Homo sapiens: one gene and its partner. The protein of the gene in region 1 purifies or fractionates together with the protein of each later gene. This does not show direct contact. Each region holds a gene or a part of one and is shown in the gene's direction. Other genes may lie near its edges.

The links. Proteins that work in one complex are often made in the same cells at the same time.
Region 2: the proteins of PLCB1 (region 1) and GNA11 purify together in Homo sapiens (affinity purification with western blotting, with the first as the bait; one study listed by BioGRID). This does not show direct contact.

What each region holds. Positions count from the first base shown.
Region 1 is NC_000020.11:8,137,789-8,143,160, forward strand, and holds part of PLCB1 (1-phosphatidylinositol 4,5-bisphosphate phosphodiesterase beta-1), read left to right. Parts: intron 1-5,372.
Region 2 is NC_000019.10:3,100,862-3,104,361, forward strand, and holds part of GNA11 (guanine nucleotide-binding protein subunit alpha-11), read left to right. Parts: intron 1-3,500. UniProt on the Homo sapiens protein: Guanine nucleotide-binding proteins (G proteins) function as transducers downstream of G protein-coupled receptors (GPCRs) in numerous signaling cascades.

The sequences.
Region 1 (5,372 bases):
ACTTCTAACTTTATAGTTTGGTTTTGCTTGTTTTTAATCTAATAAGCTATTTTTACTTTGAATGAAAACTTTAAAAAAAACCTCTTCAGCCTAAAACATTTTTATTATTGCTGAACTGATCCTCTTGAACAACAGCAACAAAAGTGACTTACAGTCAGTTTAGATGGCCATTGATTGGGTTCTTGTCTGTCCCAAGTCTGGGAAGTATAGCAGGTATAGTAAATGCCCTGAAGGAGCAAACAGTTCAACAAAACCCTAGTAATTTACAGAGGAAATGTAATGCCTTCAGGCTGTTATTGGCATGGCAAAGCTGACTAGTACAGTACTGTTGCTGGAATATAATTTTCTCTCATAGGTTTTCTCTCTTATCTTGCTTAACACTAATATTTCCCCACCTATGGTGAATGAGGATAATTTGCAGTGGCTATTAGTTTCATTTGAAAGTTTAGCCTATCAGTAAATAGCTTCAAGTTATATTTATCTGCAATGGTATATAAATGGAATGGGAACATTTTACTTTTTTATGTGGGATTTGGTAAACTGTAAATGTTTCCTTATCAGAATTGTTTCATGTTATCATGAACAAGAATCGCCAGCAGAAAATGGAAGGGGATTGCTGGTGAATTGTTGACTAACGCTATGGGTCTCCACTTAAATAACAAACCCCTGGTAACTGAAATCATTGGTCTTCTTGTTACTGGAGCTAATAATTAGGTTCATGCAACCTTTCAGATCATATCATAAATTCCAAATGCTCAGGCATATTTCACAGTCTTTTCCATCTAATCTTTTCCCTTTCTGTTCTATGTCTGATCCCCCTAAGCAGAGCCTTGTGCCCCTATGTGTAAGTAGGCAAAGGAAATATAGACATATTTCTGAGGTCATTTACATATATGACCATAAAAAAGCCATTGATTTTTGTAACTAACTAACTGAAATAGGATATAAAGGAACTAACTAATTGGAATAGATTATAAAGGATGCTTATGTTCTTTAAGAGTCTCTCTGGTTTTCCTCTGATCTCTTTAAGAGCTAATGTTCGATTTTATTATCATTACCATGTGTTAATTCTCAAAATTTTTATTTCAATTTGTATTCCAAAAATGGTTTGCATGTACCTATTAATTGAGGTTGACTAAATCTATGCATTTATCAAGAAACTAAATTATTATAAATTGAGTAACAAACTATTATATAAAATTGGAAAAAAGTTATTTTTATTTATACTAAAATTATTTTATTTATATTAAAACAGAAATAAAAGCATCCTACATCTGTCTTTTATTTCAAGGGTTTTTTTTTTTTTTTTTTTTTTTGAGACAGAGTCTTGCTCTGTCACCCAGGCTAGAGTGCAGTGGCACCATCTCGGCTCACTGCCAACCTCTGCAGCCGGGTTCAAGCTATTCTCGTGCCTCAGCCTCCGGAGTATCTGGGATTACAGGCACATGCCACCATGCCCAGCTAATTTATTTTTATTTTTATTTTTAGTAGAGACGGGGGTTTTGCCATGTTGGCCAGGCTGGTCTGGAACTCCTGACCTCGGGTAATCTGCCCACCTCGGCCTCCCAAAGTGCTAGGATTACAGGTGTGAGCCACCGCACCCGGCCTTCAAGGGCTTTTTTTGTTTACAATATTTGGTTAATGTTCTGTTTCTTTTTACTGAATTGACGTTTAATGTACAAGATCACAGAAAGTGGATTAGTTAGTAAAGAAAACATTTACCTGAAGTAGTCACATGGATATCAATATATAGCATTGATATCTAGAAGATTAAGATATTATTTTGCCATTAAAAAAAACATTTTTTTTGGAAGTTGTCTATGAAATAGTTAAGAGTAAGGGAAATTTAATTTAATTTTAATCCATTTTATAGAAGAAGCCATACAAGCTCATGAAGCTGGAAAACCATAGAGCGAATCAGCAATTGATCTGGTCAAAAAATGTTAAAGATGCCAATCATGATCCTCCCCAGGTGTGCTGTGTTGGATATGGTTGAATCTCACATAGCATCGATTCCTACATCCTCTTAGTAGGACTTCTTATAATACAAAATCTGGACTTCTAAAGCTACATTTACCAGACTCCTTTTTGACGAACATTCTTCTTGAAAATTAATATTTCCACCAAATAAATTCATGCATATGAGATATGGAGGGCAGAAACATTAAAGGGGCCAATTTCCTGCATCCTTTGGGTTGTTTCTACAGATACGTGAGAAGCTAAAAGAGGTGGGACTTTCTGTAATAGTTCTTCAGTGTCTCTGAGAGGCAGTGGTGACAGTGGCCACTCCCTGTTGGCAGCTTACACTTCTTTGGCTTCAACAAAGCTGGTGTTTTGTTTGGACCCCGGGAGTTCCTTCTTGATTTCTCACCTTTCTGAATGTGGTAGATACAATAGCTCTCCCCAAGGGTCTGTGCTGCTATGTTCTGAGATCATTCATGGAGAGCCAACCTAAAGCCTGCTCCTCCAACCCTTCCAGTTTTTCTGTCAAGTGCTTACTTTATATTAAGTCCCTTTATCTTCAAAATTCAAGAGAAATTTCTGTTTCTCGCACCAAATCCTGGCTGATATGGCCTTTTGCGGTTCTAGGATTTCACAGCTTTCAGTCCTAAATATAATAATCATCTAAGTATCCTACATAGTTTTCTCCTTCAGTACTACTGTTGAGTAAAATGAAGTTTTGCTGTAATATTTCCTCTGGAATTCAAAATCCAGACTAAGTCCTAATAGCAGGCATTCATGCTTATATAGCAGCCCTGCTTACCCCTGTTCAGTCATTAAGACCACCTCGGGTGGTAGGAAAAAGAGCAAGCGTTTGTCTTTTGCATTTCACGTAGAAGCAAATCGAGGCTAGTGATTGTGATTTGTCGAAGGGCACATAACTAAGTAGATCTGGAATAGGAATTTAAAACTACGTCTTCTGGCCAAATTCAGTGTCCTTTCCAGTCTACCATGATGTCCCCGAACAGGGTCCTTTTAGTAACAACAACAACAACAAAAAACTTTTTATTTTTTTATTTTTTTTTTTAGACGGAGTTTTGCTCTTTTTGCCCAGGCTGGAGTGCAATGGCGCAATCTCGGCTCACCGCAACCTCTGCCTCCCCGGTTCAAGCGATTTTCCTGCCTCAGCCTCCTGAGTAGCTGAGATTACAGGCTTGTGCCACCACGCACAGCTAATTTTGTAGTTTTAGTAGAGATAGGGTTTCTCCATGTTGGTCAGGCTGGTCTCAAACTCCTGATGTCATGATCCACCCGCCTCAGCCTCCCAAAGTGCTGGGATTATAGATGTGAGCCACCGAACGTGGCCAACAAAAAGCTTTTAATAGAGTCTAAATGAATACAAGTTTGAAGAGATTGATAGACTTTTCCAAAGAATCTCTGTTATTTTTAGGATTCATACATATGAAGCTTAGATCCCTGCAAACTCAGTTTTTGAGCTATTGTCTTCAAAATAGCTCTTTTTCATGGTGTATGTACAGTCCGTTTTTGTCTACACTGTGCAAGATGTGTGAGCATTGGAAAACCTCATTGCTGCTTTGAGACAAAAAGGGCAGGCCAGCCGCAGTGGCTCACGCCTGTAATCCCAGCATATTGGGAAGCCAAGGCAGGTGGATCACTTGAGGTCAGGAGTTCAAGACCAGCCTGGCCAATATGATGAAACCCCGTCTCTACTAGAATACAAAAATTAGCTGGGTGTGGTGGTGCACACCTGTAATCCCGACCACTCGAGAGGCTGAGGCAGAAGAATCACTTAAACCCAGGAGGCAGGCAGAGGTTTCAGTGAGCCAAGATCGCGCCACTGCATTCCAGCCTGGGCGACAGAGCGATACTCCGAAAAAAAAAAAAAAAAAAAGGAGGGGGCAATGTATGCTCTATAGTCTTTAAAGATATTCTACATCAGTCAGTCAGCGTGGAAACATGCATGTGGAAAGACAGGTATTCAGGTATGGTGTTAAAGGTCTTTTTTTCATTGTCGAGTAAGTGACATTTCTGCATTCAGCAAGACTCTTTATATCTGTTACTCCACCTTTTCTTCTTCTCGACATACGTGTAAATGTTGTCTTTTGCTGATTCCTATTTAGGCTTGTCCCATGGCCTCTCATAGAAATCATGGACCATGGAAGAACAAGAATATGGTAGACATGAAGGAAATGTAGAGGGTGAGTTGCCTGCTCTCAAGCACGATGCAGAATGCAAGACAGTGTCAACTGAGAGGCCAGATCTATATTACTTGTGCAGGGAGGTAGATAGGCCTTGTTTATATTACAACTAGAGCAGGACTTCTGGAGGGCTATAGCTTTATAATTATCATTATTATTTTTTTCCCTAGGGGAGAGCATAGGCCTGGCACTGGGAGGTGCTGATGCTCAGGGGATATTTGTGGAATGAAGGAACTGTCTGGTGTTTGTCTGGCTCACAGTGGGTTCACACAGGGGAGTGTGCAGCCTTGAGGCAGACCTGGAGGGCAGTCATGCTCCTATGAGACCTTCGTGACCTTTGAGGTGTTGTGTTACATTGGTTGGAACACCTTGCTCCTTGTCCTTCCATTCCATCTGAAATCTCCTAGGGTCCTAAGGGACTCTGTGACCTTCTTAAATGGGATTTCTCCATGTGTGTTTGAGAAGGAAACTATTTATTGGCAATGCAGAGCTCACTGCTGTTACAGTGCTGATTTCATTTAAGGTCCAAATATGTCTTAAGATTGAGTGTATACTACACTGCAATTCAATATTGGTTGAAGGTGATGATGCTTAATGTATTTATTTCTCATATTCTAAATTTTACCATTAGTTCCTATTTTCTGAAAAATATGCTCACCCATACACCCAAATATTGCAATGAAAAGCCCTTAAAGAAATTCAGAAGCGTTGGGAGTGACAGAACAAAAGATGCATGGTTGTGAAAACATCCTATCACGATAATGATTCACAAAGAGAAAAAAGAATACTTGTGCTTTATTGCTAAAGTGAGAAAAGTAACAAGACATAGTTCTAAATCTGATTTATAATGAACTTCCACCTACACTATTCTTTGTGTACAGAGGCAATGGAAGTCCCTGGAACAATGCTTTTAATTTCCTCCTTTCTCCACTCCTCGTTTAATGTACTTGGGCCACCTCCATTATTCCAGCTGCCCTCCTGCCCCTGAGAAATACCTCACCTTCTGCATTTATATTTTGGAGCTCGACCTTCCTGGCATCTCTGAATCCTGACTTCATTATTATCTGACACCACTCCCCTTTCTTTTAACAGTGTCTATATGAGTTTCCCCTCAGTTGAAGCTTTCCTAAGAACATAGCAATATGCCTTTACTAGTAAAAATCCCAACCTCAAAACCAACACAATGTTCCCCAGTCCCTTTTCCTCCTTTAG
Region 2 (3,500 bases), on another chromosome or scaffold:
CGGCAGACAGCGGGGAGGGAGCCCTCTTGTCCCCTGTGGCTGCCCTTCCTGCTGGCTGCTTTGCACCGAAAAGCTGCGGAGTAACCCTGGGCGGTGGTGCTCCCTGGATGGCGTCCACATGGGGACCCCAAGGCCTGGGAGGCTCCAGGAGGGACGGTGCTGGCCCAGGTTTCTGTCCCTGTCTGACCTCGGAGTTGGTGTTCTGGGTACCGCACCGTCCGGTGGCCCAGGCTCCGTTTTCTCTTCTGTCAAACTGTGTGGTCACCCTGATGTTTCAGGGGCCCTGCAGGGACGGAGTGGGGTGGGGGGCTGAAGGGTGTGGTCAAACTGGAGGGCGCTGTGTCTGTTGCTATTGTTAACCGTGTCCACACTGATGGGTGCTGGGCCCCGCCACCGAGCGGGACTTGTGCGGCCTGCAGAGATGTGGCTGTTCTGTTGCCTGTCTTAATCCCCAGGGACTGTGGGGCCAGGTCCACACTGTGGGATGAGTGCAGCCCCCACGGCTGTGGTGGGGCTGGGTCCACGCTGTGGGATGAATGCAGCCCCCAGGGACTGTGGGGCCGGGTCCACGCTGTGGGATGAATGAAGCAGCCTTTTCTCCAGCCACACTGGTTTGCTCGGCCTTAGTCCCACTGGATGCGGCGAGGGTTGACCGGTCAGGCCCTTGCTGGTGGCCTGGGTAGATGTCTGGAGAGGGGGCCTGGGCTCCGGACTCCTGCCCTTCCCCCATCAGTGATCCTATCCCACACTCTTTGGCGATGGTCAGTGAGCTGGGCAGGGGCGGGGGTCTGTCCCTGTCCCTCAGGTGGAGATGTCCAGGCCAGTGCCCACAACTGGGTTAGATGGGCTGCACAAGGCTGGGGACCAGTCTCCCAGGCTGTCGGGGGGCTTCAGTAATGGCTGTGGGAAGACCCAGCACGTGAGGAGACGGGAGCTTAGAAATTTTGTATGGCCAGGTGCGGTGGCTCATGCCTGTAATCCAAGTACTTTGAGAGGCCGAGTCAGGCAGATCACTCAAGTCCAGGAGTTCGAGACCAGCCTGGGCAACATGACGAGACCCCTGTCTCTACTAAAAATGCAAAAAATTAGCCAGACTTGGTGATGTGCACCTGTAGTCCCAGCTACCTGGGTGGCTAAGGTGGGAGGATCACTTGAGTCCAGGAGGCAGAGGTTGCAGTGAGCCGAGATTGCACCACTGCACTCCAGCCTGGGCGACCGAGGGAGAGGTTCTGTCTCAAAAACAAACAAACAAACAAAACAAAACAAACAAAAAAAAAACGTAGAAAACATGAGTGAGTGACACCATCCGCTTCCAGTGGAGGGGTGGGGTCACTCCCACTTGGGAGCCAGTCTGCACGGAAGCCTCAGTGGGAACAGAACAAGGTGGCATGGCCCCTGACCGGCGAGGGGCAGTTAGTATCTGCACCTTTGAGGCACCTGGGGACTCTGCTGCTGTGGAGATGGGATTGGGTTCCAGTCCAGAGGCTGTCCTGCCATCGCTGCCCCTGGCTGTCATGCCCCACCTGGGGTAGTGAGTTTCGGGGCAGCTCTTTCTTGAGCCTCAGCAGCGGGGTGAGCCGGGTGCACTTCCTCTCTCAGGGCGCCCCCTTGTCTTCTTGCCTCCCTGCCTGAGGGTGCGTGCTGGAGCAGAAGAGCACGTCCTGGGCTGCCTGCCGGGGATAAGCTGCGGAGCCAGGAGACCGAAGTCTCTTCAGGCCCTGCCATTAGGGGTCGTGTGACTTCAGGGAGGCAGCTTGTCCTCTCCGTGCCTCAGTTTCCCCTCCAGTCAATCAGGCGCTGAGGTGCTGTCTACCTCCTGGGGTTCTGAGACTGAAGCGAAGCAGGCATGAGGCCCCTTGTGAAGCTGGATGAGGGGCGTCCGTCCTCCGCTGCAGGAGGGCTGCCCCTCCTCGGGCCCCTGCGTCAGGTTGGTGCCTGGCTCTGACCCCACACCCACCAGTACAGCTCTTGGTCAGGGTTAGATTTCCTGGCTGTTTCCAAGAGCCAAGATCACAGGCACACGCATGCACACGCGTGGGCTGCCACCACCCGCCTTCTCATGGGTGCTGACAAACGGTCATGTGTATCCCCCAGGTGGGGCCCTGTGGCTCTGGCCTTGCTCCCGGTGTGTGCACTGGCCTGGCCTCCCCGCAGCCTGGTGGGGGCTTCCTGGCTTCTCGGCCCACATCTCACAGTCTTGGGCACTGTGGGGCTCGGCTCAGGCGTCGTAGACGGGAAGCAGCCTGGAACCCTGGAAGTCTGACTCCCAGGTGTCGGCTCCCAGGTCTCAGCCCTGCCACTGGGGTCATGGGTTACTTGAATCTTTATATACTTTTTATTTGTTATTTATTTATTTATTTATTTATTTTTGAGAGAGAGTCTCACTCTGTTGCCCAGGCTGGAGTGCAGTGGTGCAGTCTTGGCTCACTGCAACCTCTGCCTCCTGGTTCAAGTGATTCTCCTGCCTCAGCCTCCCGAGAAGCTGGGATTACAGGCGCATGCCACCACACCCGGCTAATTTTTGTATTTTTAGTGGAGATGTGGTTTCACTATGTTGGCCAGGCTGGTCTCCAACTTCTGACCTCAGGTGATCCGCTTGCCTTGGCCTCCCAAAGTGCTGGGATTACAGGCGTGAGCCACTGCGCCCGGCCTTGAATCTTTTTTTTTTTTTTTTTTTTTTTTTTTTTTTGAGACAAGGTCTCACTTGTCACCCAGGCTGGAGTGCAGTGGTAGAATGTTTGCTCACCTCTGTCTCTTGGGTTCAAGCGTTTCTCCTGCCTCAGCCTCCTGAGTAGCTGGGATTACAAGCGCCCACTGCCACACCCAGCTAATTTTTTTTTTTGTAAATTTTTTTTTTTTGAGACAAGAGTCTTGCTCTGTCGCCTAGGCTGGAGTGCAGTGGCACGATCTCAGCTCACCACAAGCTCCGCCTCCTGATTCACGCCATTCTCCTGCCTCAGCTTTCAGGCGCCTGCCACCATGCCCGGCTAATTTTTTGTAGTTTTAGTGGAGACGCGGTTTCACCGTGTTAGCCAGGATGGTCTCGATCTCCTGACCTCGTGATCCGCCCACCTTGGCCTCCCAAAGTGCCGGGATTACAGGTGTGAGCCACCATGCCTGGCCATTTTTGTAAATTTTTTGGTAGAGACGGGGTTTCACCATGTTGGCTAGGCTGGTCTTGAACTCCTGACCTCAAATGATCCACCTGCCTCGGCCTCAAAGTGCTGGGATTACAGGCGTGAGCCACCGCGCCCGGCTTTGAATCTTGAGCATCGGATGAGCCCCCAGCTCCTGCTGTCAGGGCTGCGCCCTCTTGTGGCGCTTGGAGCCTCCTTTTCTTCCGTTTTCCTTTCCCACCGGGGAAAAGGAAGCTGGGGCACGGACTTCGTTCCTCCTGGTTGGCCTCTCCAGATCTTGGCCAGCGGGTCCAGTCGGGAGGGTGGTTTTCTCCTCTGGAAGCTGGCTCAGTGGGAGCAGTGGGCGGACTCTGGCCCCTCCTA